Homo sapiens: one gene and its partners. The protein of the gene in region 2 interacts with the protein of the main gene of each other region in a biochemical or structural test. Each region holds a gene or a part of one and is shown on either strand. Other genes may lie near its edges. The genes, in order: RGS12, MAP2K2, MAST4, PDLIM2, PREX2, SHROOM2 and SIPA1L3.

The links.
Region 1: the proteins of MAP2K2 (region 2) and RGS12 interact in a test that uses a peptide from one of them, tested with the Homo sapiens proteins (one large-scale study listed by IntAct).
Region 3: the proteins of MAP2K2 (region 2) and MAST4 interact in a test that uses a peptide from one of them, tested with the Homo sapiens proteins (one large-scale study listed by IntAct).
Region 4: the proteins of MAP2K2 (region 2) and PDLIM2 interact in a test that uses a peptide from one of them, tested with the Homo sapiens proteins (one large-scale study listed by IntAct).
Region 5: the proteins of MAP2K2 (region 2) and PREX2 interact in a test that uses a peptide from one of them, tested with the Homo sapiens proteins (one large-scale study listed by IntAct).
Region 6: the proteins of MAP2K2 (region 2) and SHROOM2 interact in a test that uses a peptide from one of them, tested with the Homo sapiens proteins (one large-scale study listed by IntAct).
Region 7: the proteins of MAP2K2 (region 2) and SIPA1L3 interact in a test that uses a peptide from one of them, tested with the Homo sapiens proteins (one large-scale study listed by IntAct).

The regions. Positions count from the first base shown.
Region 1 is NC_000004.12:3,320,293-3,324,275, forward strand, and holds part of RGS12 (regulator of G-protein signaling 12), read left to right. Parts: intron 1-3,632; exon of another isoform or gene 3,633-3,983. UniProt on the Homo sapiens protein: Regulates G protein-coupled receptor signaling cascades. Inhibits signal transduction by increasing the GTPase activity of G protein alpha subunits, thereby driving them into their inactive GDP-bound form.
Region 2 is NC_000019.10:4,099,868-4,103,850, forward strand, and holds part of MAP2K2 (dual specificity mitogen-activated protein kinase kinase 2), read right to left. Parts: intron 3,340-3,983; exon of another isoform or gene 2,950-3,339; intron 2,587-2,949; coding exon 2,509-2,586; intron 1,414-2,508; coding exon 1,362-1,413; intron 1,277-1,361; coding exon 1,152-1,276; intron 1-1,151. UniProt on the Homo sapiens protein: Catalyzes the concomitant phosphorylation of a threonine and a tyrosine residue in a Thr-Glu-Tyr sequence located in MAP kinases. Activates the ERK1 and ERK2 MAP kinases.
Region 3 is NC_000005.10:67,166,138-67,170,321, reverse strand, and holds the end of MAST4 (microtubule-associated serine/threonine-protein kinase 4), read right to left. Parts: coding exon 3,271-4,184; 3' UTR 729-3,270; downstream 1-728.
Region 4 is NC_000008.11:22,583,354-22,587,336, forward strand, and holds part of PDLIM2 (PDZ and LIM domain protein 2), read left to right. Parts: intron 1-1,467; coding exon 1,468-1,537; intron 1,538-1,663; coding exon 1,664-1,809; intron 1,810-1,967; coding exon 1,968-2,046; intron 2,047-3,983. UniProt on the Homo sapiens protein: Probable adapter protein located at the actin cytoskeleton that promotes cell attachment. Necessary for the migratory capacity of epithelial cells. Overexpression enhances cell adhesion to collagen and fibronectin and suppresses anchorage independent growth.
Region 5 is NC_000008.11:68,231,299-68,235,281, forward strand, and holds part of PREX2 (phosphatidylinositol 3,4,5-trisphosphate-dependent Rac exchanger 2 protein), read left to right. Parts: intron 1-34; coding exon 35-80; 3' UTR 81-3,983. UniProt on the Homo sapiens protein: Functions as a RAC1 guanine nucleotide exchange factor (GEF), activating Rac proteins by exchanging bound GDP for free GTP.
Region 6 is NC_000023.11:9,784,862-9,789,489, forward strand, and holds the start of SHROOM2 (protein Shroom2), read left to right. Parts: upstream 1-1,567; 5' UTR 1,568-1,684; coding exon 1,685-1,849; intron 1,850-4,628. UniProt on the Homo sapiens protein: May be involved in endothelial cell morphology changes during cell spreading. In the retinal pigment epithelium, may regulate the biogenesis of melanosomes and promote their association with the apical cell surface by inducing gamma-tubulin redistribution.
Region 7 is NC_000019.10:37,905,839-37,910,329, forward strand, and holds the start of SIPA1L3 (signal-induced proliferation-associated 1-like protein 3), read left to right. Parts: upstream 1-1,369; 5' UTR 1,370-1,520; intron 1,521-4,491. Other genes in the region: WDR87 (WD repeat-containing protein 87), read right to left, coding at 745-845. UniProt on the Homo sapiens protein: Plays a critical role in epithelial cell morphogenesis, polarity, adhesion and cytoskeletal organization in the lens.

The DNA of each region.
Region 1 (3,983 bases), on a different chromosome or scaffold from region 2:
AGGTGGGGTTGTGATGCCAGCCTTGGGCTTCTTTGCAGTGAAGATGAGGGTCCTGGCTGTTCCCACCCACACTGGAGCAGAGCAGAAGGGGAGCTAGCATGTCCTCAGGGTTGGAAATAACGGTGTGGCGGTCACTGCTTTGCAGAGTGCATCCTTACCTTGATAGGAATCCTGAGGCCATCAGGCCAGGCGATTGAGGTTTGGCTGTCAGGTGACTTGCTCACAGTCACAGGGCATGTGAGTGCTGGGACCAAGACAGCCCTGGCGCTCCGTGTGGGATTTGGAGTGGCCTTCATAATGTGGCGTGATACACTATCTAAAAATAAACAGGTAGTAACGTGTTGTGTTTTATGGGTTCCTGCTGTAATCTCTTGAGGTTTAAGTGTTGCTGTTTACTTTGCCAAGTGGGCCTCCCTGTGTAGTTAGGTGAGTCTGATCCCATAGCCTCCCCAGTTAGAGCAGCAGAAGCTTCCAGGGGTCATGAGGCGGCCACAAGATGGGTCCGGACGTCGCCGTGGACAGGTCTGCAGAGTTTCGAAGGTGGCCGTGACCGTCCGCAGCGATCAGGGCCCCACCTGGACGCTGGCCTGTGCTGAGAGAAGGGGCCAGCAGGGATGCAGGAAGTGCCTGGAAGTTAGAAGAAGCAGCAGAGTTGGCACAGGGAGGGAGAGAGCAGAGGAGGCCCCTGGAGGGTGCCATGGTGTCAGGCAGCGAGCTTCACGTGACTCCGGATTCTTAGTGACGGGGACTTCAGGGCTTTACTTTGCACAAACTCAGGTGGAATCAGTCAGGATCCAGCCAGGAGACAGGAAACGCAGCAGTAATTTGAACAGGAAAAATTCAGTATACAGAATCGTTAACAAAGGAAAAGAAGGTTAGCTGCTGAAAGAGAAAAGAAAGGCTAAGGTCATCAGTGTGGAAAGGGGCTGAGTCTAGAAAAGTGGGCGTGGGAGGCTTAGATACCCAGAGTAGGGGCCTTATCTGACAGGACTGTGAGTCCATCGCAGCTGTGAGAGAGTGAAGCAGCTCCAGGTGAGGATTGGTGGCTGTCCCCAGTCCCCAGGAAAAACGATGTGGGACCCTCACATGCCAGTCCACCCCACTCCATCTGGGAGGCAGTGCCTGTGCCCATTGCTGAACATTGAGCCCCTGGGCAGGAGCCATGTGGTCTTCAAGGCCCAGTGCCAGGATCAGAAGCTGGGCACGGCAGGGTGGGTTTGGCGCTGAGAAGAAATGCCTTGGTGTCTGGCACAGTGCCCCGTTAGGCTACCCAGCGTCTGTATGCACCCTTCTTCAGCACCCCCAAGGGCATCTCACTCCCAGCTTCTGCTTTTGAGTCCGCCTTGGCTTGCCTGCACCCCAGGGCAGGGTTTTCTGTGGCTGTGGAGCAGCTCCGGCCTGGACAGCCACGTCAGCTCCTCCCCCCAGTGGACTGCAGGCATGTGGTGTCCAGCGCGCTCTGAGGCCCAGGCCTGGGCAGGGGCCCCTGCTGACGGTGTCCTTGGCTTAGGCACTCGCCCTTAGCCCTAGAACAATCTTCAGCATTCCCTCTACACAGTTATTACTAGTTCTATGAATGTTAAACGTTCCCTTTGAAATTACTGGCACCAGCCTTTCTTAATCTGTATGCAAAATAAGCTGACTATTAGAAGAAATATAATACTGCATCTAGTCACAAGTTGGTCTCTAAGGCCAATAGTTCTGTGTCCTAACTGCCACCAGATTCTCCATTGTTGTCCTTTGCCAACGCTTTTGTCACTGCCGCCTCCATCCTGCTGTCTGCAGGCTCAGCCCGGGTTTCCGCCCTCAGTGGCCACTTGCTCCTGTGAAAGCCTGGGGACCAGCGAGCCAGACCCCTTGTTGCTCGGCATTTCTACGTCTCCTTGGTGAGATGGAAAGCTCTAACCCCCTGCACACCGAGCCACGTGGTGACCTTGTGCCAGCTCATCCTTGTCAGCTTCTCCCTCCTCTGGGGAGGAGCAAGGAAGGGGAGCTGAGTTACTTGTAGACTCGCTGAGGGTCTGAAATTCTTGAAGTGGGTGAGATGATGTTTGGAAGTGGACTGCTTTCCCTTTTGTGTAGTTTGCTCTTTGTCTCTGCCTAATGTCTGTAGCCAGCACAAGCTGGTTCTCATGGAGATAAGCATTCAGGCCTGTGACTAACAAAAGGGGCTGATGTGAAAGAGAACCCAGGATCTCGAAATGCTTCTGTCATCAAAAATGATTGCCTTGTGTTTCATTTAAGGCAAGCGTGTTTAATTCTGTGTCTCTGCAAACTGACTCAAAGTTATATTAATTAATTAAATTAATTAATTAAAATACCTGGTTAAGTAGCAGCACCCAAATTCTTAAAATTTCCATACAATGGATTTTGGAAATTTTAAAAATGAAAATATGTTATTTGTGATATGTAAAGGATTGATTGGTGTAATTTTGAAATGAATGAATACATATTTTTAAATTCCTCAGTTTAATTTCTGGTATGAGAAACATCAGTAGCTGAAACCCACAAAAATAAAGACTCGCTGAGGTGCTCAGTCGTTTGTAGGTACTCCCAGGAGTCCTGAGACCACAGCACTTGAGGACTGCTGCCCGCAGAAGGTTGGATTTGCAGGAGTGAGTTCCTTCTCAACTGTTGCTTACTGAGATAAGACCATTAACAGAGAATGGAGAAATACCTTATGGGTGTACTGGAGTACCCGAGAGCTACATCTGAGTGAGATAGTGGTACCTGCATCACCTGAAGTACATCTGAAAATCGCGCTCATAAAAAAGGCAAAATACAGAAGCCTCAAGCCCGTGAGCAGCGCAGTCTGCTGTCCAGGGTGGCGCGTGCCCCTCGGTGGGAGGACAAGCCAGGGGCGAGCGGGAGGACGAGCAAGCACCAGGCTGGGGGGCCTCTCCCGGGAGGGGTGCCGTGGCGCCTCGCTCGTGTTGGTGCAGTTTTATTTCTTGCGGTGCAGTGTGTTGGTGGGTGCTCATCATCTCATTCTCCACCATTTGTTCATGACGACATACCCAAAGGTACAATCACAGACACAATGCGAACAGCACTGTAAGAGTCAGAGCCTTAGATGCTGCTGCTGCCTCTGCCCCGCTCCGCGCGGGGAGCTGCAGTTCAGAGTTCGCTTCCTTTCATGGACTTACTCTGTTTGCACAGGCTCTTGGATATTCTCTTCCTTTTCCTTCCCTTTATTGAAAATACATGTGACATACTGCTGTGAGTTACTTTTTTCTAAAACAAATTTCTCATGTACATAGTTATATATCAATTTTAAAAACTCTTCTTCATTGTAGTGGCCACGTGGTATTATGTCATATGCCTGTGCCATTTCTTACTGAATCAGTCCCCAGTTGATGGCAACCTTAGACTGTTTCTATATTTAATAATAAGCTGGATTGCAGTAAAAATTCTTAAAGTTCTATCTTTGTATATATGTGAGTTTTCTTTTGGGTAGGTTCCTAGATGTGGAATTGCTGTTTTTAAAAGTGTATGTGCATTTTAAAGTTTGCCAAATTGCTCACCAAAGAGGTTTTCTAGTTTATATTTTTGTCAGTAGTGTGTGTGTGTGTGTGTGTGTGAGAGAGAGAGAGAGAGAGAGAGAGAGAGAGAGAGAATGCCCCCTTTTTTATTGAAGGAGAATTTGTGTTATTTTGATGTACAGAAAACTCAACAGTGTTCATTTCACCCAGTTTATTGGCAGGTTCTGTGGCCTTTGCCTTTTCCAGCTTGGCAACGTGAGCCACAGATTTTGGTCCCAGAGCTAGCTTTCCCAGCGATGGCAGATCTTGTCATATCTGTTGTCGTGGGTCTTGATAGCTTCCACCAGCTTAGAGCTCCCTTGTCTTCCAAGTTAACCTGTGTGAAGGCGACAGTGGAGCAGACTCGTTGGTCCTGCGGGCTTGACGCCCTCGTCAGGCCTTCCCTTGACAGTGCGGTCGGGAACCCCCATCTCAGGACGCAGGCAGGCAGGAAGACAACCA
Region 2 (3,983 bases):
TTGGGAGGTTGAGGTGGAAGCCCAGGAGTTAAGACTAGGCTAGCCAATATGGCGAGACCCCATCTCTACTAAAAACATTTTTTTAAAAGTTAGCCAAGGCTGCCGGGCACGGTGGCTCACGCCTGTAATCCCAGCACTTTGGGAGGCCGAGGCGGGCGGATCACAAGGTCAGATTGAGACCATCCTGGCTGACATGGTGAAACCCTGTCTCTACTAAAAACACAAAAAATTAGCCGGGCGTGGTGGCGAGCGCCTGTAGTCCCAGCTACTCGGGAGGCTGAGGCAGGAGAATGGTGTGAATCCGGGAGGCGGAGCTTGCAGTGAGCGGAGATGGCGCCACTGCACTCCAGCCTGGGTGAGAGTGTGAGACTGTGTCTCAAAAAACAACAACAACAACAAAAACAAAAACCAAATTACCCAGCTGTGGTGGCACATGCCTGTAGCCCCAGCTGCTTGGAAGGCTGAGGCAGGAGAATTGCTCCCGGGTGGGAGGCGGAGGTTGCAATGAGCCAAGATTGTGCCATTGCACTCCAGCCTGGGTGACAGAGCAAGACTCTGTCTCAAAAAAAAAAAAAAAAAAAAAAAAAAGAAAGAAACCTGGTAGGCACTGCTAGAGACAAAAACCTAAGAGAGAATTCCAACAGGAAGGGGAGATCTGGCCGGGCGTGGTGGCTCAGGCTCACTGCTAGTGGAATCCCAGCACTTTGGGAGGCTGAGGAAAGAAGGTCACTTGAGTCCAGGAGTTCATGAGCAGCCTGGGCAATACAGCGAGACCCCGTGTCTACAAAAGATTAGTAAATTAACAAATAAAAAATAAAGAGCAAGGGGAATCCGAAAAGCAGGCTCCCAGGAGGCACCAGCTTTAGACGTGCCTTGTGGCAAGTGGGGAGAGCTGATGAAGGGGAGGGTGCAGCTGGGGTGGGACTGTCCCGGGGGTGCTAACAGCCATGTAGGAGTGTGTGCCCACGAAATAGTTGGGAAAGCCTCGTGGGAGGCGGGGAGAGCTGCGCAGGAGAACTGGGAGGGACAGCTGCGCAGGAGACATGGGGGTGAGAGCTGAGGGGGAGAGCTGGCTGGCAGAGCTGGGTGGGGAGAGCTTGGGGGAGAGCAGCAGGGAGGAGAGCTGGAGGGGAGAGCCAGCGGGGACTCACAGCCATGTAGGAGCGCGTGCCCACGAAGGAGTTGGCCATGGAGTCGATGAGCTGGCCGCTCACCCCGAAGTCACACAGCTTGATCTCCCCTCTAGAGTTCACGAGGATGTTGGAGGGCTTCACATCTGGAGGCGGCAGGCTGCGGGTGAGGGGCGCCCAACAGTTGCCTGCCGGCCCCCGGGGCTCTGGGGAGGGCGGGCTGGGCCTTACCTCGGTGCATGATCTGGTGCTTCTCTCGGAGGTACGCCAAGCCCCGGAGAACCTGCAGGGGAGCGCGGAGGGAGTCACGGGACAAGGCCACCAGGGCTTAGCTCCTGACCGAGCCCGGGGGTCAGAGCTGAGCAGTCAGAGCTGGAGCGAGGGAGCTGCGGCAGGAACCATTTCAGGCTGTGAGGAGCTCGCTGGGGTGGAGCAAGCGAGGCCAGAGACGAGACAGTGCTGACAGCCCTGTGCTGGCGTGTGCAAGTCAACCCCGGTTCCCATGGCCGCAGTGCCGCCGATGCCACTACTGCCTTTGATTCAGAGCACACGGCTTAGCCCCAGGGAAGCTGAGATGGTGGCCCATGGCCCGGGAGTAGGCTGGGCTGCCGAGTTTGCCCACATCAGCCTGAAAGGCAGCATCTGGGGTCCCAGGGACTGTGCTAAGGGCCCCCAGATGGGACGGGCTAAGGGTGCCTGGGAAGGACGATGTTTCCCCCAGGCCCGCCCTGGAAGCAGCATCCCGAGAAGTGAAGCAAGCAGCACAGGCAGTGTGACGGCAGCTTTCAACTCGGAAACGCGTGTCTGGCAGCATGCGTCCTGTGTCTTAATCCAACACTGGTATGGGCAGGCGGGACTCGGCCCCTGCTATGGACAAGGTGCAAGCTCCAAGAAGCAACACGCACGGTCTGCTGAAACCACACGGCTCTACGGAGCAGCTGTGCTGGAGACCGGGCAGCAGAGACGCCCTTGGCCCCGGTGACATTTCTAACAGCAATGGTGAGTGTGTCTGGAGGTCCTGGCGTCCCACATCCCACCCCAGAGTCTCCCTTTCAACAAGCTCCTGTCCCCTGCAACGTGCCAGCTGCCAACATCCCCCTGCCACGAGGGGCAGAGGGGACCAGTGTGGCAAACAGAGGATACTAAGAGTGAAGAGGGACCTATAACGTCTTCACTTGGCAGATGGTGACCTCAGGCCCCAAAAGGGACGTCACTTGTTCAAGCTCCACAGCAGGTGGGCACAGCCTTGGCCACTCTCTTTCTGCAGGGGCCACCCTAACCCCCACCACACTGTGAGTGGCTCCCGGAACCCTGGCCGTGTGGAAGAGGTCCGTGCAGAGTGCGGTGGGGGCGCGATGTGGGTCTGCGGTGGACTCACCGCGATGCTGACTTTCCCCAGGATCTCCTCGGGAATCCTCTTGGCCTCTTTCAGCACCTGGTCCAGGGAGCCGCCGTCCTAGAGGGCACACAAGGAGTGAGTGCAGGCTCTGCGCAGGTGGCCGGGAAGCCACGGATGCGTCCCCCCACTCCCGGCGAGGGGGTGGTCTGCCTCCTGACGGGAAGCAGGGGCCGGAGCCCAACTCCACCCACGGGCCAAGGGCAGGGCGTCTTCTGACAGTTCTGCCTTTGGGTCTGAACACCCACCCACAAGGTGGGGAAGGAACAGGGCCCAGGGTTCCCCCGCCTCCCGTCCCATCCTCGAATCAGTTGCGTGACTCGGCCCTCCTGAGGTCGCCACGGCAGAGGCTCTGCTCCGGGCCAGCCCAAGCCGCGGCCGGGGGCTCAGGCAGCTGTGGGGCCCGCACTCCCTGCAGCCTACGTGGTGGGCTTGTCTGTGCGCCACGGGAGGCGGCCAGGCTGGAGACCAGCGTCTTGGGCCTGCGTCCTCTTCCCAGCACACGAAGGGAAGGGGAGGGTGAGGGCGCGGAGGAGACGCGGGTGCTGCCCCGCGTGGGAGGAGGCGGCGGGTCGCTGTGTGCCCGTCCAGACCCCCAGGGGGCTCCCTCGCCAAGCCCTGCGGCTCCACTGCTGGGCGTCTGCCCTGCGCCTGTCCCTGCCACCTAGGGCAGAAAGGCCAGGCCGAGTAGGACCAGGGGCCAGGGGGTGCATGGACTGCAGGAGGGATCCCAGTGACGCCAGCCCAGGTGACGGTAACCTCGGCCCCTCCCCACAGCCTGTGGTCTCCTCGCCACTGTGCCGGGCATCCTGCGGAGGGCCTGGAAACGAGTCATCATGGGTAGGCTGGTCCCCGGGTGTGGCCCCACATCCATGTCATAAATGATGAAACAGAAATTCCATGTCTTGCCCAAGGCTGCCTGGCAACAAACCTGGGGACCAAAACCCCCAAATGCCAAAACCCCAGGCACTGGGAGCCACCCAAGGTGCCTCTTCAGAGGCAGAGGCTCCGGACACACCTGCCAGGCCACCCCCAGGACAGCAGGGGTGACAGGCCAAGTTCCCACTGCCACCGTCTGGCGTGCGTCTCTTCTGTGCTCAGCAGAGAGGAAAGTGGAACTGAGGCTAGAGAGGGCGGGCTGGAGGAGCCTGGAGAGGCTGGCTGGGGAGCCTGGATTTCCCCACCATGCTGCTCCAGGACTCCTGCAAAAGCCCAGCCTTCCCTGGGATGGCTTTCATTCACATGGGTGGGAGGAGCCGGGGGAGAAATCCTGGGACTCAGGGGTGCCCGGGTTGCCGCTCTCTGGCCACTTCTGCCCAGCTAGGCTTGGAGAGAAAGGCCGAAGGCAGTTCTAGAAAACCCAACACGCTTTGAGACCTCTAAAGCATACACGTGACTCCATCCACCAGCTCCAGGCTGAAGACGCAGACACACAGGGTGAGAGGGCAGGTATGGCC
Region 3 (4,184 bases), on a different chromosome or scaffold from region 2:
TTTCTGAAAGGAAAGAGACAGTTGGGGAGGAAAAAGAGAATGCTGAGGCAGACTATGGTAATTGATGGAGCAAGTTCGTGAGAGAATGAGAGGAGGTGGTGGTGGTGTCACAGAGAAAGGAGAATCAAGACCCCCTGAGTGTGGGAAGATGGTGAGTGTGAGTGTAGAAGTTGGTAAGTTCTGCAGGCAAGGAAAAAGGTTGGTAGAAAAAAATAGGAAGAAGTTAAAAGAGGACTTAATCTTTTTTTTTTTTCTTTTTTTTGGAGATAGGGTCTCACTCTGTTGCCCAGGCTGGAATGCAATGGCACAATTATAGCTTGTTCACTGCAGCCTTGAACTTATGGGTTTAAGTAATTCTCCTACCTCAGCCTCCTGAGTAGTTGGGACAATAGGCGTACACCACCACACCCAGCTAACTTTTCAAGTTTTTGTAGAGATAGGGTCTATGTTGCCCAGGTTGGTCTCCAATTCCTAGCTGAAGCCATCTTCCTGCCTTAAGACTCCCAAATAGCTAGGACTACAGGTGAGCACCACTATGCCCAGCTAAAGGACTTAATGTTGAAGAATATTTGTGTACATTTTTAAGAAAAAAAGGCAAACTGTTCCACTCAGCAAAAAGTAATCTGTAAAAACCTATCCTTTCCATAATACCAGAGTAATAATCAGTAATATTTTTTGGAGGTGGAATGCATATGAGTATATTAGAAAAAAACTTACGAGTCATTATCTTTTCATGCTAAATTTTTATTTCAATGTTATGCAACTGCATAAGTATAAATATTTTGTTCAATATACAACAATTATGACGTCCATAAGGAATTTCTTAGAGAAAATAAGACTGCAAACACTTTATTGCACAGATCCTAACAAACTTTTAAGCTGGTAAATCTACAGCTGGGAGTACTACCAAGGAGCACATCCTACAATCACACAGAGACTGACCAAATAGAACACAATGAGGAGAATTTCTACCAGCTGATTGGAGAGGTTTACAACAACAAACATGTAATACATGAATGCAACCTTAAGTACTCTTTACTCATTTATAATGAAAAACATATTTGGCAAAAATGATGATACACTATACAAAATATACATAAAAATATCATTTGTAAACAAATAGCTAGTTGTGCTTTAAAGGAAATTGGACAGTTAAAAAGCAAAGGCTTGTAAACCATGAACTACCTCCCCGACAGACTTGTCCCGATGGCTGAATGTAGGATTGGGTTATGACAACTGCCAAACACAGATATGTATTATAAACGTTGAGACCAGTTTTGAAATCCATTAGTAAACTCTTGTAAAGTATATATATATATTTTTACAGCTTCACAATATAGTGATGGGGAATGGCTAAAACCATATGGGAAAAAAAAATTAGGGGCAAGGAGGAGGCTTTTTTCTTTTTCTTTTTTTGTTTGTTTTTTTCCTTTTTCCCAAAGCCAATTCATTTTACAACGAAGGACAACTGAGCAGTCGGTTAAGTTATGCCTTTGTTTTCAGAGTGGAGTTTATAGCCTCACTAGAAGATTTACAATCCATAAGGCCATAAGATGATGCTGTGCTTAGATGAACAATTTTATAGCGTGAAGATACTAAGACATCCCCCAAGAGAGTTTGGGTGCTAGATCAGTTATTTATTGGTAATTTTTTTTCTCTTACAAAACCAAACAAAAAATTCTGCTATGGTTCCCAAGCAACTTATAAATACTTATCTGTATTTTCTCTTAGTGCCTTAGTATTTATATCAGCAAGTGCCATCTTACAATACAAAACAAGCCACCAAAGAAACTGCAACAACAGAAACAAAAACAAGAAATCAAAAACCTTCAGCACTAAAATGATTTGACAAATTCTACATATTCCACGGTATACAAAATTTAAATAAGGCTTAGCAAAAGTAAAAAGGATGGTCACATTCAAGCACCAAATAGCTCCAGCGAGTCTCTTTGTTACAAAAATGCTGCTCTGTATTAAGACAGTATTTTTTGCATACAAATAAAGAGATCAGGTTATGAAATGTGTGGAGCTACTAGATGCAGCAGAAATGAATGTGAAACCCAGGAACTTGCTAAAAACAGCAAGCTTCATCTACAACATAAGGCCCCAGCTATGTATTAAAATGTATCTGATGTCCTGATTATTCTTTAATCGATATGCTACGATGCCAAAATCCACCCCCAGTTCTTTTCCTCAAAAAAGCAAATTTAAAACCTCTTCCAATGCCTGATGCTTATTACTCAAGTACTAGAAGATTTGGGTGCAGCCAGTAATTTTCCTTTTTATTCAAGAGCAGGGCTGGTGCAGGACTACTACAAAATGTGTGCTTCTTGGACTAGTCACTCACAGCATAAAGGCCTGAGTTTAAGAGTTTGAAAAGAAGGAAAAGAAAGCAAACAGAAAGAAAGTTGATGTGTGTTTATAGTCCCCGCTCTACCTCAGGTGAAGGCCAGACATCCACATCCACAGAAAGGAACAACTGGCCTTTTAGACAGTTGGACCAGGGATCCAGTGTCCATTGGGATGGCCGTGTAATGAAAATGGCTAGCTCCACTTGTCCTGGCCATTCCTAATGGAGGAGGATTCCAAATGCAGTACTTAGAGTAGTTCTTGCTTTAGATCTGGAAATATAGGTAGCCAGATACAGTACTATCAGAAACTCTGGTTAAAATACACATAAAAACTCAGAATCTACTGTGTTTAGGGCTTTCTTCCATCTTAACTTAGAATGTTTTAGCTTATAAAAATGGAACCTTGAAATAGTCTCTTAAACCACAGACCAAAACATGTAGGTGGATGTGTATATACACGAATATGGGTGTATCTCTGTTCACACACACCCAGTTTTGACCATTTTGCTTCATTACTACATTATGATAAATGGTAAAGCAAAAATCTTATTTAAAAAAAGCTGTAGTAAACGACGCAATCAGCAGCCAGGTATAGACTCTACATCCCAAACCAAACACGATGCTATATATTTACAAAGAAAATCATTTTCCTCAACAACCCTCAACTGTAAAGGTAATTTTTTTTTTTTTTTTTTTTTTTTTTTTTGTACAAACACTATCTGGTAACAGTTTTACCGGTTACAACTGGGAAGGCATCTGGAAGAAGGTCCCCTCTTTGTCTTTCTCTCTCCCCTGTCTCAATGAGGCTCCGAGCTCTGCCTGGCGGACATTCCCACACAGTGCTGGTTTTGAAAGGTAGTCAAGACACAGTCGCCCGTTCAGGACGGGTCTCCACAGTCCTGCCCCTGGGCCCTCCCCGTTACAAGGCCTTTTTGTGAGGGCTGCTACGCAAACTCTCTTTCCCCCGCCTCTGCCGTACCACAAAGTCCTTCTCATTAGAAAGAGAGATGGGGCGGTCAGTGTTTGGGGCTGGGGATGGCTTGGTCACGTCTCTGCCCACGTTCTGTTTCCTAGCTGGGGGAGGCTGGGCTGGGGCAGGGTCCTTCCCTTTGGTTTCCCCTACGGTGGCAGTCACCGAGAGAGCCCTGTCCCGGTGGCTGGCCCCGCCCATGGTGTTTGGGTCGGGGTGGTGTGACTCCAGAGGCAGGGTGGAGACCCGGAAGGAGGGCAGGGAGTCACTCTTTGTCATGTGGGTTCGGCCCTCCCCGGCAGGCTGAGCCTTCCTATGGTCCCTGTTGCTGGGGGCTGGAAGCTCCAGCATGCCCCCGGCGGCCTTGGCAGAAGAGGTGTCGCTGCTGGCTGCAGAGGCCTCTCTAACTCCGGCCCTGGTTTCAGGGAAGCTGGAGGAGCAGCTCAGAGACTTTTCCGGGAGGGCCGTGGATCGGAAAGAACTCTGCCCAGTGGCTGAGGGGGACCGTTTCATGCCATTGGGCTTGTCTGCCTCCGTCGGTGGCTTCTGGGGACCGGGCCCTTTCCCTCTGGCCTCAGGGAAGCCCTTCCCCACCCCCGCGGCTGGCCGCTCCGCGCCTTTCAACCGGTTCTCGCTATGCACAAAGGAAAGGCCGGCCTCGAGCTTGTCGCCCTCTGCTGGAGCATAAAGTGCTTCAGTGCATTTCTTCCCTTCCGCCCTTCTGTCGGTGTTGGCGGCCGGCTGACTCGGGCTTTTGTCTGTCTGTCTGTTGTCTGTCTGTTTGCACAGGGTGGGGCAATCTTTCACAGTGGATGGTTTGGGGTGCTTTGGAGACAGGGTTTGCTTTTCACCAACAGCGGACA
Region 4 (3,983 bases), on a different chromosome or scaffold from region 2:
GTGGGCAGGGTGCACAGCTGGCCCAGTCACCGTGGGCTCTAGAACTTGAGGCAGCTCACTTTCCCTCTCTGGGTTTCAGTTTCTCCATGGGTTAAAATATAAAGGATTATTTCTATGAAATCAGTAATCAGGCCGGGCGCAGTGGCTCACACCTGTAATTTCAGCATTTTGGGAGGCCGAGTCGGGCGGATCACCTGAGGTCAGGAGTTCAAGACCAGCCTGGCCAATACGGCGAAACCCCGTCTCTACTGAAAATACAAAAATTAGCCGGGCATGCTAGTGGGCACCTGTAGTCCCAGCTACCTGGGGGGCTGAGGCAGGGAGAATTGCTTGAACCCAGGAGGTGGAGGTTGCAGTGAGCCGAGATTGCACCACTGCGCTCCAGCCTGGGTGACAGAGCGAGACTCCATCTCAAAAAACAAAAAAATCAGTAATCTTCCCCCAAATCAATCTACAAACCCGAGGCTGAGTGATATCAGTGACAAAGTCCAGGCAAAATAGAAAAAAAAAAAAAAAAAAAAAAAAAAAAAAGGGCAGGATAATGTGAGGACTCTCTAATAAAACTGAATGTTTGAACTTTCTGATGAAGTTATGTACGTTCTACTTTTTAGAACCAAACTATCCTTTCTTTTTTTGGGGTGGGTTTTGCTGTTGTTACTGTCGTTTGAGATGGAGTCTCACTCTGTCGCCCAGCCTGGAGTGCAGTGGTACAATTTTGGCTCACTGTAACCTCTGCCTCCCTGGGTCAAGCAATTCTCCTGCCTCAGCCTCCCAAGTAGCTGGTGTTACAGGCATGCGTCACTATGGCTTGGCTAAATTTTTTTTTTTTTTTTTTTAATTAGAGATGGGGTTTCACCTTGTTGATGACCAGGCTGGTCTGGAACTCCTAACTTCAAGAGATTCACCCTCCTTGGCCTCCCAAAGTGCTGGGATTACAGGCGTGAGCCACCGTGCCCGGCCTTGGTGTTTTTTTGAGACAGAATCTCGCTGTGTTGCCCAGGCTGGAAGGCAGTGGCACAATCACGGCTCACTACAACCTCCATCTCCTGGGCTCAAGCGATCCTCCCACCTCAACCTCCCAAGTAGCTGGGACTACCGGCATGCACCACCATGTGCAGCTACTTAAAAAAAAATTTTAGTAGTCATGAGGTCTTCCTATGTTGCCCAGGCTGGTCTTGAACTCTTGGGCTCAAGTGATCCTCCTGCCTTGGCTTCCCAAAGCGTTGGGATGATAGGCGTGGGTCAATGTGCCTGGCCAACTGTCCTTTCTTTTAAGGAACCATGGTTGTCATTGATGATAGTTGTTTGTCTTGAGTTTGACAAAGTTAAAAGTTGACAACCGGATGTCCAAATTTTCTGTAGCTTTTACTGGTGTTGAGAACTAGATCTGGGAACAGTTTTGGCCTCTTTTGGGGGTTGCAGGGTGCAGGGCCCCTGTGACATTCCCTCCCTCTGTTGCCTTCTCAGGTCTCAGGCTACGTCTCCAGGGCAGACCAATGGGGACAGCTCCTTGGAAGTGCTGGCGACTCGCTTCCAGGTAAGCTGGTGCCCTCCCCTGACAGCCTCAGCACCCTGATCACTGGTGCATGAAAGTGAGGCCCGAGGGCAGGGCGGCCTTGGCGGGGCAGCCCTGCCTTTCCTGACACAGTCACTCTCTCCACAGGGCTCCGTGAGGACATACACTGAGAGTCAGTCCTCCTTAAGGTCCTCCTACTCCAGCCCAACCTCCCTCAGCCCGAGGGCCGGCAGCCCCTTCTCACCACCACCCTCTAGCAGCTCCCTCACTGGAGAGGCAGCCATCAGCCGCAGGTGAGTGTGCCTGTGAGTGGGTACCCTGGTCGCCTGCGCTGCCAGCTCCAGGCTGGCTCCTCTGAGTCTCAGGAGCTCTGCTTGGGAGCCCGGGGCAGCATCCTCCCTGGGCAGGCTGGGGGTGGCCCTGGCACACACTGTCCCTTTCCCACTTTCAGCTTCCAGAGTCTGGCATGTTCCCCGGGCCTCCCCGCTGCTGACCGCCTGTCCTACTCAGGCCGCCCTGGAAGCCGACAGGTGAGGCTCCCTGGGGGAGGACAGGCTGGAGGAACAGAAGCACCTCCCGTTCCTGTGGGTTGCCAGTGCCCCGGGACTGCAGGCGGCCAGGCCCACCTGGGCAGCCATGGCCTCCTTCTCCTGGCCACAGGCATGCTCTGCTCCTGAGCCAGGGAGGCCATGCTTCTGGTCGTGGGCCACCTGTGCTGTGCCCAAGACCTGCCCAGCAGTGCCCAGTAGCCCGTCCATCTCCTGCACCCCTCCCCTCATCCCCCTCCCCTCCCATCCTGCTGACTTCCTCCCTGCCCAGTATGTTTCTCTTGGGCTGTGGCTGAAATAGTTTCGCTGCTGTTGTTGGGATGATTCCCTTTCGTCTCTGGCTGCATCTCTCGAACACATTCCTCCCCATTCCAAGACCCGGGCCTGCCTGACTCCCACCCACACCCTCCCTTCCTCCTCTGACTCAGCCCAGAGATGCCCCAGTGGGACTGCGGTTCTGCCTTGAGCGCTCTTGGCTTATTCTGTCTCCTCCTCCCCCTACCCCCGCCAGCTCCCCTGGACTCTCTTTCAGCCAGGTCCCAGTGGCCCCTGGTGACAGCCTAACCCCCTTCCTGGGTGGTATTTCTCCTCTTCAACGGTGGGGGATGGTGAGGGAGTGAGGCAGCCAACAGCCCTGGGCCGCAGCTGCTGGGGACGGCGTGGGGGGCACGTCCAGCCTTTGGGGTGATGGGGATATGGCCCAGCTGCTGAGCCCTACCTTTGGGTTGATTCTGCATTCCAGAAAGCAGAGCCTTTGGGGGTGGCCAGGGAGGGCACTAGAACCCAGAGGCTCTGGAGGAGGAAGGAGCAGGATCTTTCTGGGGGCCTTCCGAACAGCGGCTGCCTAGTGACCCGCTGCGTGCCCACCCAGAGGCCAGCCTGGCACTGTGGCCATAGAGATATATTCCATGGGTCCCCTTGTTAAGGAATTGAAGATGCAGTTGTAGAGATAAGGCAAACTTGCAAAACAATTTTGGAGCAATTAGGCACTAAGCAGTGTGGTATTAATTACAAAAGCAGGAGGCGTTCTGGGAGGGGAGGGGAAGGAAGGCTGTGTGAGGAGTATTGCTGGACGTTAGAGGTGGTGGTGAGAGGGTTTAGGGAAGGATGAGCAGGAGGCCCGACATGCTGGGAGATGGAGAAACACTGGTCCGGGCGACGGCTGATGTATTGGGGCTGGGGGATTTTTTAGGGGGAACCTTTGTTCTGAGATGAGCCAGGAATGAGCTTGTTTCAAGAGGGCTGGTCAGTGTCAGTCCTGGCTCTGTTCCGCGACACCTCTGGTGGGCTGTGGTCTCAGCAGGACCCACGTGCTCAAGGGCAAGCCTTCCCGAGCTTCCCCATCGTGTTGCCCCCAGTCCAGGAAAATGAAGGGTGTGGGAGGTACAGAGGCATGGCTCCCAAACCAGCGGCAACACCTGAGAACTTGTTGGAAATGCAACTTCCCAGGCTCCAGCCTACACCCGCTGAATTGGGCATGGGGCTTGTGGGTCACGAGCCCAGAGCTGGGTGTGGGGAGACTCACTTGGGTCGGTCCCACCTCTGCCTGACGACTTGGACCAGCCCCCCTTCCTCTCCCTGGGCCTCAGGTCAGACTAGACGCTCTGAGTTCCCTTCTCTGACCTTGATGACTCTGCTCATTCCTTCGGCAAATATTTGTCGAGCAGCTGCTTCATGTCAGACACTCATCTGGGCTCTGGGGATGCAATCGTGGAAAAACAGAGTGACACCTCTGACCCTATGGAGCTGACGTTCTAGTCTACAAATGAGGCTGTGGTCCCACGGGTGCACAAGTCTCAGGGTCCCACAGCTGCCTTTTGAGAATCACTGTGTAGCTGGGTGCTGTGACATGTGCCTGGAGCCCCAGCTACTCCGGAGGCTGGGGCGGGAGGATTGCTTGAGCCCAGGAGTCCAGACCA
Region 5 (3,983 bases), on a different chromosome or scaffold from region 2:
AAGTCACTGTCAAACTTTACCATGCCTTTTCTAGGCTGTACAAGCTGTGCGAGCCACCTCCCCCAGCTGGAGAAGAATGAAAAGAACTCCCAAGAAACCAGGCAGGCAGAAGCTCCTGAATGCTGGACTAGACAAACTACATGCTGGCTAAACATTCTCCACTGAAGATACATCAATGCTTTTTTTTTTTTTTTTTTCTGTAAATCTTTCTTCCCATTGCAAACAAGTAGTGATCAGTTTATACTTTGATATTTATGCTGGAAATGGATAGAAGTTCAATCAGACAGTTCAGCTTCACGAACTGATGTCTCTCTGTATTGACATTAAGTATTCACTTTTAGAGTAAAATCCATCCCTGGGACATAAAGAAAAAAATATTAGAGATTTAAAAATTAACCACCATGCCTCCTCTCCCATTCATTAAAATGGTTTTATTATGCTTGTTTTCATCTTTCCCAAGTGGACACATGTAATAATGGAGAGTTCCTCTTGAAGAAGGCCATTATTGAAGAAACCTGGCGACATCTTGCAAATCATCATGAGAAATGTTAAGGACAATATAGACTGTGTGCTATACATTTTCAGTCCCCCATTTGCAAGAGAGAAAGTCATTAATGTGTAAAAGGTGGAAAAGCATGCTTTACTCTTTCTCCTAAGGGCTTATTTCTTATTAGAGGAGAAGAAAGCTGACTAAGGCCTCCAGCAGGACTCACTTTCTTCTAGCTGCCTTTGGGCATCCTTTATTCTTGTGGACAGCTCTAGCAAATCAATGCTATTTTTGGTGTCTGCAATGGGCATGGCTTCCTTGGGCCATGAATACTGGGTGCTGTGCCATAATGGCCCTGGGGATCAGGGAAGTGCCCTGGGGATCAGGGAGGGGAACCAGGATGAAGAAGGGGACTGTAAGCCTATTTTAAAACTAAACCTTTAAGTTAGATACCTAAAACTCTTAATTTTATGAAGGCTCTCATATGAGAGGTCAGACTCTTCAAAGAATACACCATCATGAGAATTTTTCTGTTAAGATATATGTATAAGATATGAAAATAAGGCTTTATTTGTACTTTAAAAGGACCATTAGGGGACTTGTAATTTATGGATGCACAAGGTGTATTCTATCCTTATTCTAAAGTATATGTAATGTTTATCATTTCTACATTGATGCAATAACATTGTTTTTAGCATAGTAAATACAGTAATATTTATTTTAAATCCATAATTTTCAAACAAAACACTCATGATTGTGATAATTATATGGGTTTACACTAATTTAGTATGTGAAATGCTTTTCATATCTAAATTATGTGCAAACTATTATTAATTTTTTTTTTATTTTTTGAAACTGAGTCTCACTCTGTTACCCAGACTGGAGTGCGGTGGTGCAATCTTGGCTCACTGCAACCTCCACCTCCTGGGTTCAAGCCATTCTCTTGCCTCAGCCTCCCAGGAGCTGGGACTACAGGTGTGCACCACCATGCTCAGCTAATTTTTGTATTTTTAGTAGAGACGTGTTTTCACCATGTTGGCCAGGCTGGTCTTGAACTCCTGACATCAAGTGATCCACCCACCTCAGCCTCCCAAAGTGCTAGGATTACAGGCGTGAGCCGCTGCTCCCGGCCCATTATTAAATTTTAATTTATGAAATTTGATCATGGTTTTCAAACTATTATTAAAACCTTTATCATTAACCATTATGTATTGAATAACAAAAATACCATGTTACATGTGTAGGCAATATGTGTATACTACTAGGTAAGGTAATAATAATTGTTATTTGGCACAGAAGCTCTAGAGACTTTTGTGAGAAGTCCATATACAATGAAAAACAAGGAACCTAACATCAGAGTTTTCAAGAAAAAGTTGAACATTTTGAATTTAATAAAGATATCTTTACAAAAATAACCTTCAAGGATTTAACATTTGTAGGACTAATAAAGGAACACAGCTGATTAGCTAGCAAGTCCTTTCATATTGTCATGACTGTTTTCTCATCACCATCCTGGAAGCAGTAATCCTCATTAGAGGCATGCAAGGGTCATTAAAATGATTTCAGTTGTACTTTGCCATATTTCATGGGGCAAATTATCAGCTATATTGTGGTATTTATAAGCTAACATATTTTATATTTTTAAGGATCTACTTTCTTCATAATAGAATGTGCTTCATATTATTTTTAGGGTTAAACATAAGTGTGTCGTCTATCATGCTTGGTACTTACTAAATGCTCAAAAATTAGTAATGGTTTATATTAACATCAGTCACTCTAACTTCTGATCGTAATAAAAATTGTAGCTAACACTTATTAAGGGATTACTACATGCCCAGTAATACCTCCAAATGCTTTGCCTGTATTCTGTTGTTATTGCTTCACTTAATCCTCATAATAATGACGTGACATGGTACTCTTTTTATCGCGCCCATTTTTAGAGTTGAGGAACCAAAGCAAAGAATAACCCAGTGACTTGCACAAAGTCACATGATTGACAAGGGGTAGAACCAAAATTTGAACCCAGGAAGTCTGCCTTCTTAATGCATTATGCTACTTTTCCTTATCAATATAAGAACTATTGTAATATTACGATGATTTGTAAGTAAATTTGGAGTTATGCGGCATGTGTTGTCATTAAATTATACATCTTGTATTAAAAAACGGTGAATGGAAATATGTAAATGCTTTAATTATATGAAAATTATAGTGTTTCCTGGACATTTTACAACTCTGGATGCACATTTTGAGGTAACTCAACAGTGTTGCAATCTGAAAAACTATTTTGTATCATGTTCCTCCTCATCAAAAATAACAGTTTTAGATAGTACATCTCATACAACTTTATTATAATTCCAACACAGTGGTAAGAGTAAAAAACATACCTAATGGATGAATGAATAATGACAATTTTTTCAATGCCATATGTACCTCCATGTGACATTGGGCATTAAATGGCCTTGAGGTTTTAGGATGTGTTTACCTTAATGCTACATGCTCCTCTATAACCAGTGCACCTTCAAATACTGCTAAAACCTGCTAACTTCTTCCAGGTTCTGAGCATGGACAACTCCCACCGCCCCCCAACCTAAAAGGGAAGGTCATGCATAGAAAGTTTGGATTTTAACTTAGAGCCTGACTCAAAAATAATTGTGAACTAAAAATTCATAGTCAATACTTTTTAAGCATTCTATTATCTCCTATAATTTTTTCTAATATTAATTCCAAATATTACAAAATTTAATGTGATATTAAAGTATGAAAAATTTGAGAAGATTAGAATTTTACATGTATTTCCATTCCTATTTAAAGAGAGAAAATGGGGAGATAATTTCTGTGCTAGTTTTACTTATATTGGATATATAATATTGAATTTATAGTATAAGCTTTATTTTATCAGTTCGCAAATCTGAAGTCTCATACTGTTTTCTGTCTCTTTAAAACACATTCTTCTGGTGGCTTGGGTTCATTGTGCATTCATTGGCCACTCTTCTTGCAGCAAATTTTAAATCAATTTAAAATTAGGTAAACTTTTTATGATACTATAATATATATGACGTTGAAATGACATTGGTTCTGAGTCTATTAATTTAAATTTTGGGATCATTACATTCAGAATGAAATGAAATTGACCTTGATACTAACTTTGAGAGCCAAAAAAATGAATGGGTAAACAAAGCCTAAGGGTCATGTTAATTAATTTAACAAAACACACTATTTTCAGTCCTTTGGGCTTGTACATTTTATAGACAAAATTAGCATTTATTGATTTGGAAGTGTTCAATTGAGAGTAAATGACTCTGTGTTTTGAAACTAATACCTTTGCATTTAAAATACTGAAGTATTATTTTGTTAGTTGAAGTAGATCTTTTCCTGTGTAGCATGATTTAATGCAGAGCAGTTATTCACTTATACTTCTGAAAAGCCATAATATTGAAATTTAAAATGAATAGTCTTACTTTAAGGTCACTTTTACTTTACATTTTACTTTAAAGGT
Region 6 (4,628 bases), on a different chromosome or scaffold from region 2:
TGAAGATACACTCGACTTGATTCTGAGAGGCACATTCCTTAAGCCTTCGTTTAATCTTTGAAAAAGAAAAAATCGCCTCATTCTTCTAACTAAAGGCATTCAGAGACTGTAGTTAGAAGTTAATTATGGGGCAGTCACCACGTGCCCAGCGCCATGACAGGTGCCCAGTGGAGCTGCGACTCTGAATTTAATCGGCTGCATGAGACACCTCCACAGAATGCACCCCTCTCACTTGACCTCTGAAGAAACAGACCAGAGCTGAGATTTCTTGTCCCAGCTTGACAGTGGCAGAACCCAGACCCGGGGACCCTTGACTCTCTGTCCAGTGCTCTCCCGGCCTGTCCTGGATGCGTACTCCAGCATCGTCACCTCTGAAAAGGGCCTGGATGGAGCTGCTTAGAGAAAAGAGGTGTTCACCAGCCTTCAGCTACGTATAGAAACAGCAACGAAAACAGCTTTTTTGCAAAGCATGTAAATACCTATCCATGCAGGTACTTTAGACCAGAGTTTCATGGAAACTGAAACCGAGCAGGAAGAGGTGGCACACATGTTGTCCGCAAACTTTCACCAATCCCAGACCTCCACCTCCCCTTTTCGGGGATGTAAACCTGGGAAACTTGAAGACCTTGTGGTCCAATCCTAGGCGAGTGGGGACAGCATCTAGACGCAACGGCTTTCTGCGCGGTGGCTGTGGGAGGCCTCTGCGGGAAGGTGGGAAGGCCCTCGTGGAAACGGGGCACGGTCCTTCTGCGCCCGCCTTCCAAGCCCCTCCAGAGGCCGGACCCGCGCCCGGCTCAGGCTGCTGGGGGGCGCCCTTCCCGGCTCTCTAAGTCCAGAGTGTGAGTGCGCGCAGGGCCGCGCGGGACGGGCGGTCCCTCTGCCCCGGGGCAGCGGCCACAGCGCGGGCACCAGGGCCTCCCGCGGCGCTTCCGCTCTCACCTGCGCGGCAGCCCGCGGTGCGCGAGAACAAAGTGTGGGCGCCGGCGGGCCGCGCGCCCCGAGACGGAGGAGGCCGGAGACTCCCGCCACGCCACCCCGCGCCCATCTCACCTGCCGCCTCACCTGCCCGGTCCTGGCCTCCAACCGGCGGGCGGGGGCGCCCAGAGCTTCGAAGCACTGCAGAGCTCTGGCGCGGGAGGAAAGGCCCGACCTGGCGCCGGGGCCTCCGCCCCCGTCCTCGCCCGCGCTGGCTCCGCCAGCCCCGGGGCGCGCGCTCCTCGACCCCGACCCCGAACCCGCTGAACGGCGCGCGCGCCTGAGCGCCCCTCCCGGCCCGCTCCCCTCCACCGGGCGAGAGAACCGGGGCGCGCCCCTCTCCAGCTCTCCCCGGTACGAGCGGCCGCGTGGGCCCCTGAGCGCGCACCTGACCCCGTCCCTCACCCTTCGGGCCGCGGGCTGGACCTCTGGACGCGCTCCCCGTGACCGGCCCCGCGGTACGAGCTCCCGAACGCGCCCGCCCCGCCCCCCGTCGGCCCCGCCCCCTCCCCGCCAGCCCCGGCCCCGGCCCCGGCCCCGGCCCCGCCCCCTCCCCGCCAGCCCTCCGGGCTCCCTCCGCCGCCGGGCCGGCACTTTCTTTCCAAGTTACGGCGCAAGTTCTGCGGCGCTCGGAGCCTCCCTTGCGATCCCACGGCCGGGACTGCCCGGAGTGCATGGGCGCGGGCCAGGGACGCTGAGCGGTCGCGCCATGGAGGGCGCCGAGCCCCGCGCGCGGCCCGAGCGCCTGGCCGAGGCCGAGACGCGGGCGGCGGACGGCGGGCGCCTGGTGGAGGTGCAGCTGAGCGGCGGCGCCCCGTGGGGCTTCACCCTGAAGGGCGGCCGCGAGCACGGCGAGCCGCTGGTCATCACCAAGGTAAGGCGGCCGCGGGGCGCGGGCGCTGACAGCCGGGAGCTGGCCGCCCTGCGGGGCGCGTCGAGGTAGGGGCGCGGGAGGGGCGGTAGGCTCGCGCCCCCGGGTCTGGCGCGCGCGTCTGCTGGGGTCACCTGCCGGGCCTGGGCGCCGGGACCGGCGTGGGCGTGTGATCCTGGCGGTTCCCCGCGCCTCGCAGAGTTTAAATGGCTCCTGCCCGGAGTCCCTTTCCCCTCCCCCTCCCTCCTCCGGGCAGGGGCCTGGCCGGGTCCTCTGGCGCTCCCGGGCCCGCCAGTGGCGGCCTGCACCTGCGGGGCTGCCTGGAGGCCAGCGAAGGAACGTGTCCCCGAGCCGTCCCCACCTATGTTTGCCTCTCTGGGGTCCCTGGTTCGGCACCCCTTGGACCCGTGCCTGTGATCACTACGAAATCCAGAGTAGCAGCTGTCGCCAGCGCAACTTCTCGATTCCCTTCAGCCCATCAATGTTTACTGACTTTCGGCTTCCAGTCCCAGATCCACTGCGCACTGGATACCTGCGCAAACTTAGAGAAACCTGAAAGCCTGCTTCCTAAGAGCAGGACCCGAGTTCTAATAATAATAAAGAAATTCCAGATGTATCTCATCAGGAATGTTGTGTGTGTGTGTGTGGTTTGCTTTAGAACATTGAATTTTATTGTCTCAAAACAAAATCCATCTGGAAACTTACCAGTTGAACCTGTATGAACTTGTAAAAGCAAACACATAAACAACAGTCCAGTCACCCTGTGTTCTAGTTAAAAGTGTGTAGTGGTCATTTTCTCTGGGAAGGGTTGAGTCGGACCTTTCGTGTGGACGAAGTTCCTTTTAAAATGTAAAGATTCTTGGCGACTAGAAGCGTTTGAAGATAATTTACTGGTTTTCTCGGCTTTCCTGCCTCTCCACAGCAGGAAGAAATTAAGTGATTCCTAACCCGCCGCACTGGTAATCAGTTTGGGAAGTGGGATGGCTTTGTTGTTCAAATAGCAAATGAGACACCAGCGTCTTCCATTCTATATTTTCTGTCGCTTTTATGATTACAAAACTTTGTGGAGGGATTTGGAGAAGCCTTGTTTAGCTTTGCACTAAATTTTTGTTGAACTCAGGAAAGAGGTTGCCATTGTTATAAATTTGACCAATGTGTAATCTTTTATCACACTGGCTTCTTTGGAAACATGGTGGACAGTCATAAAGTGTGTATACTCTGCCCAGCCAGAACACTCCTCTTTTTTTTTTCTTTTATTTCTTTTCTTTTCTTTCTTTCTTTCTTCTTTTTTTTTTTTGAGACAGGGTCTTGTTCTGTCAGCCTCCTGAGTAGCTGGGACCACAGATGTGCGCCACCATGCCTGGTTAATTTTTTAAAATTTTTTGTAGAAACGGGGAGTTTCACCATTTTGCCCAGGCTGGTCTCGAACTCCTCTGCCTCCCAAAGTCCTGGCATTACAGGCATGAGCCACTGCGCTTGGCTCAGAATGTGGATTAATCCAAGCTTTGAATCTTCCTCTCCCAAAAGCTACTGAAAAGTCACTGGGGCTCATTAAAAAATAGCTCTTCTAATCGTTTTTTTTTTTCCACTTGTAATTAAATAGTTACATATTAGAGCCCTGGAATACTGTACAACTCACTTGCTATTTAGCAGACTCTGATTTGGGGATAGCTTGCATTAAGGTAAGAGCGCACCTTCTCTTTATGATAATGAGGGTATCATTTGAAAGCCTCATGGGAGTGCGTGTAGTAGAACTGGGAGGGGTGTCAAGAACAAGGCTGGTTCGGTCCTGGTCTTCAGATGGAATTTTATCAGCCCATTTTATAGATGAAACAGCTGTGGCCCAGGCAGGGCAAATGGTGTATCCTGAGGTCACAAACTGTTGAGTCCTGGGAAAGGCCCTAAGAATCAGACTCTGGCCCCAGTGTTCAAGCCTGCTGCTCCCCTTCAGTCAGTGCCATCTGCTTGGGTCTGGGATCTCCTGCAATGCCATATTGAATACCTTCGTCACATCGGTTAGGTGAGGGTTTGCCAGCCTTGGCATTGGGGACTTTGTGAGCTGAATCTCTTTGCTGTGGGGCTGCCCTGTGCTTTGGAGGATGCTCAGCAGCCTCCCCAGCCTCTACCTGCTTGATGCTACTGTCACCTCTCTCCAGGTGTGATGACAAAAATGTCTCCAGACATTGCCAAATGTCCTCTGGGGGCAAAATTAGCCTGGTTTTGAATCTCTTTTGTTAGATTAACCATATATCACCTTTGCTCTTAAAGGATTCTTGCTCTTAAAACTTCTGTTTCTTTTTGAATAGACTGGCCTTTAGGGTGGTGTGTTTAGAGGCCTCTGGCATTGCCAGTGTTTGCATGGAGAGCTGTTTTCCTCCCACGCGTTGGCCCTGAGAATAGGCTTTATTTACATAGTCAAACTCAAACAAATACTTGCTTCATCTGCATTTTTTGTAGCTGGAGAAAGGAAATTGAAGCAGGAACTCCCAAGTGCTGTGTTTTATGGGCATCCACAGTGGCTGTTCAGAATCAGGACTGACTACTCTCTGGGTCTAGTTTGAAGCTAAAGGGATACCAACTTCAGAGGAGTAGCATTCTTGGAATTTGGGGTGCATGCATGAAGCCCAGCAGAACCTCCGCTGACAGATGGCGACAGGATTCATCACTCCTCAGTACGTTTCTGCTGATTTCTGCCTTGAAATTTTGCTACAGTTGGTGGAAAAAATGCACTCAAACCCATATTTCCATGCTGTTGTTAGAGAGGGGGCAGGAATAACATCCA
Region 7 (4,491 bases), about 34 Mb from region 2:
CTAGTATTGCTCTACATTGTTGTAGTCTGGTGGTGGCCTGATATCCCTACTGGACTGAAAACTCCCTGAAGGTAGGAGTCCAGTCTGTCTGGATTTCTCTTGTGTCTCCATAATCACCCAACCTGACATGGAATAGGTGGTTAATCCATTTTTGTTGAATGAGTGGAAAAATGTGCTCTCCCAGGAAGAAACATATGCTTCCCAGCTTCAAGTGTTAGTGAACATCTTCCTAGAAGGCAGGCTGAGGCGGAAAGGGTATTGACTCCGGCTTCTCCACCAGAGGACCTTGCAATTCCAGTCAATTCCCTCGGTAACTCTTATGGAGGAGTGGCAATATACCTTAAAAAAGGAGTGTGTGTTGCGGGGTATTCCGCTGCTTGGTTATGTCACCAGGTGGATTAAATTTGGACAAAATTTCCCAAGGTGTAGGTACTCTACAAACACTAGTTACCCTCAGGAATGTGCGATCAACAAAAGAATGCAAGATAACAAGGCCCCTAGGCAGCCCCTGGGTCTTGTGGCTCCCGTCGAAGGCAGAGCTCTGGAGCCGCCTACGCCGGGGACAGGCGACTACACCTGGGGCCCCTCACCCTCGGGCCTCCTGCACGTGGCAGGGAAGGCAGGGCGTCTCTATCTCAAAGCATTGGCTGCGCCTGTTACCTGCGACAGGATTCCCGACAAGGGACGGGTACGGCGTGTGCACTCAGGAGCTCCTAGAGCTAGGGGCAGCAACTAAGAAGCTACCTGGCGGATGTTGCGAGAGGACTCCGCCCACAGAACGGTTGGCCCCCAACCCCGCAGCCGGCGGACTTCCCGAGGCCAGGGGTCTGAACGCGCGTGCGCATGGGCGCGCGCCCGGCGCGAGAACGCGCGCGCGCTCTCGAAAGAAAAAAAAAAAAAATCCTCTCCGCGGGGTCCCGCGGCAATTTAGGCCGGGGTCTGCCGACGACCGCGCGTGCGCGGGCGTGCATCTACGCCCTCCTCCACCGCCCCCTCCGCTGGGGGTCTAGCGCACTGCTCCGCTTCCCCCGTTTCCCCCGGGCTAGCGTCCTAGGGGTAAGTGACTCGAGCCTGGCAGAGAGTGAGGGAGAGGTTCCGCCGAATGAAGGGAGGAGGTAGACGGGGCCAGGAGAAAGGAGAAACCGCCCCGGCGGGGCGAAGAGCGCGGCTCTCGAGCTGTAGTCTGCAGGAGACACACCTCCCTCCCTCACGCCCCTCGGGGCTGCGGAAGTGCTCTACAGACTGGAGCTGCACGAAGGCGACCAGCGGACTACCGTTCCTAGGAGGCAGCGCGGCGGTGCGCCTACGGCTCCCGGCAGCCCCCGCGCGCCATTCTCTTTTTGAGTTCGCGGCCGGCTAGGGCGAAACTACAGTTCCCAGGAGGACTCGCGCGAAGCGGCTTGGAAGTGGGCAGCCTGGAAGTCACTCGGGCCACCGGAGCTGGCGGCGTCTCCAGCGAGCGGCGCGGAGCTGGACGCCGCGATCGTGGGGCCCGCGAGGCGGGCAGCCGGGGCGTCCAGGTACGTGGCTCCGGGTGCAGGATCGGCCTCGCGCAAGGGTGGCGGGGAATCGGTGGCTGCCCGGACCCCGAGGGTCAGCGCGGGCGGACGGCCGGGTGTGGGTACTGGCCGTGGGGGGCGGCGGCGCCGGGACTCGCGCCCTCCGGACCCAGCCGGACTCGTGCCCGCATGGCTCAACTTTCCAGGCGTGCACCCCGGCGCTGTGGTGAAGAGCTTGGAGGCGGGGAGCGGTGGATTCGCGTCCCGGCTGTGCCACTCGGGAGCCGCGATCTGGGAAAACCGCGCCGAACCTCAATTTCCCCTGCAGTAAAACGGAGTAGGAGAGCATCTTGGCGGAGACTCTGTTGAGATAATATAATAAAACATTTGGCACATAGGAGGCACTTACTACGTATTTGGGTTATTGTTAGCTCTCCGAAAAATGAGGTGAAGATGTTATCGATTGCATAGGGTGAGGATTAGTTGAGCGTGTGCATGTAAAGAGGTGAGTCCTTAGTTAGCACCCAATGCAGGCTAGCTGCTGTTAACCGAGATTATTTTGTTAAGAGCGTTGGTTTGGAAGGCAGAGAGACCCCAGGTTCAAATTTGAACATTTACCAGCTGTGTGACTTTGGGCAACTGGCTTCACCTCTCTGTGCCTTGGTTTCCCTATCTATAAAATGGGGATTTAAATAGCAACCACTTCGTCGAGTTGTTTTCAGGATGCAGTGAGAATACCATGTGTAAAGTGCTTAGCACAGCAGCTGGCATATAACGCTCAGTAAATGGTACCATTTATTCAGCGTTTTCCTAGTGGCCCAGAGACCCTCTGAGGGTGGGGCTCTGGCCGTAGTATTGGTCACCCCCGAGGGCCAGATTCAGAACTGGTCCAGTTGACTTCCCTTCCTACTACCTCAGGTTCCTCATTTACAAAATGGGATAATAACAAGATCACTCTCAAAGGGTTGTAAGGATTTGCTGAGATTGTATTTCTAGTCCAGCGCCATCTCTCACTAAGTAGCAGCTCTTATGTATTATAATTGTTCTTCAATATTCTCCATCTGGCCCAGAGACTGCCTGACTGTGGGCTGTGACATGACAGCCCTGAGCTCCCCCACACATTTGCTCCCATCCTCAGTGTCCCATCTGTGGAATGGTAGTCATAGGACTTTTGTGCCAGGATTGTTTGGATGGTTCCAGGAGATAATTCATGTTTAGTGCTTTGCACAAGGCCCGGCACACAGTAAGTGCTTATTAAATGATTAAATGTATCTTGCTGTTTTTTTTTTTAATAGGCCCTTTTTGCTTCTGTTTGTACCTACATGGCAGAGTGAGCACAAAGTTAGTGTTTTTTTATCTTCCCCCTCCCTCCCAAATTTTACTTACCAAAGATTAAATTATGGAACACACTATAGTAGAAAGGCCTAAGAAGAAATGGGTCTGACCTGCCATCAGCAGTCCCCTGCTCACACACCCCTCCCCACAGAGCCAGTATGTTCACTCCAGTGCTTTAATTATTGTCCTGGTGCTGCCAGCTTTTGCCTTTGTGTCCCAAAGCCACTGAGTCCCCTGCACTCCAGCTCCAGATGTGGAGCCTGTGCTTCTTTGATGCTGTGGCTCAAAGAAGTGGCTGTTTCTTGGGCACCATAAACTCAGCATGTCCAACCTGAACTCCTTCTCCTCCTGGAACCAGTAGTCACCATCTTGGCAAATGTGCCAGCATTGACCTGGTTGCCTAAGCCAGAAACCTGGGAGTTGCTCTTCTTCCCCAGCCTTCCCATATCCAGTCAACTAGCAAGAAGGACGAAGCTGCCATTTCATAGAAACACCATTTCATTGGCCCATATTGGTCTCCCATCTGATGGGCACTGAAAGTTCCCCTCAGCTTGAGACGGAGTCTTGCTCCATAGCCCAGGCTGGAGTGCAGTGGCACAATCTCAGCTCACTGAAGCCTCCGTCTCCCGGGTTCAAGCAATTCTCCTGCCTCAGCCTCCTGAGTAGCTGGGATTACAGGTGCCCGCCACCACACGTGGTTAGTTTTTTTTTTTTTAGTAGAGATGGGGTTTTCACCATGTTGGCCAGGCTGGTCTTGAACTCCTGACCTCAGGTGATCTACCCATTTTGGCCTCCCAAAGTGCTGGGATTGTAGGGCATGAACCACCGCGCCTGGCTGTGACAAGGTTAAGTCAAGTCATTAGGGATTAACATACGTAAACCTATGTAACATATGTATTAATAAGGGCAAGAAGATGTTATAGACTTGGCTAGACAGCAGTGGCTGTGGATGTGGCATGAAAGCCTGGCTTTCAGGGGACCCAGTTCTGTGATTTTAGCCTGGTAAAGATCGGCTGAGTTGTTAATTTCTTTCAGAAAAGTTAGATGGTGTCAGCGGCTTAGAATATCCCGTGTGGGAGGGTGGCCATCCTGGGCATTTCAGGAGGCAGCACACATACCACACACCCAAGAAGAGGCTGGGAAGGGAATTTATTAGCGCTCCCCTTAGGTTGAGTTTATTGTCAGAAACCTGTCATTGTGATTTCATTTGATGATAGAAACCGGTGGCCTCAATCACATTTGTGATGGCCAACAAATTTACCTAAGCATTTTGCTAACCTGAAGAAGTAAAGCAGTGGCTTAAAAAAAAAAAAAAAAAAGCAGCACGTGGCTTTTTAGCAGTCAGTGTAGAATGAATGATCTAAGAGTTAAATGTGAGTCTGTGTTTCAGACATTGCAGTTGTTAGGTGGTAAATCAAAAGTGGAATTTAGAATGTGCAGTGATTGGTGCCTCATTTTTTTGCTGTAAAATATATTTTACTGATATATTTCAAACATAGTCTTAGTAACTTGTAAAATGTAAATTAAATGTATTTACATTTTAATAAAAGAATTCAATAATCATTTCCTTTAAAATAAAGTGTTTGTTTTTAGCTATTAGAATGAGAGGCTATTTGGCAGGGTGCAGTGGCTCATGCCTGTAATCCCAGCACTTTGG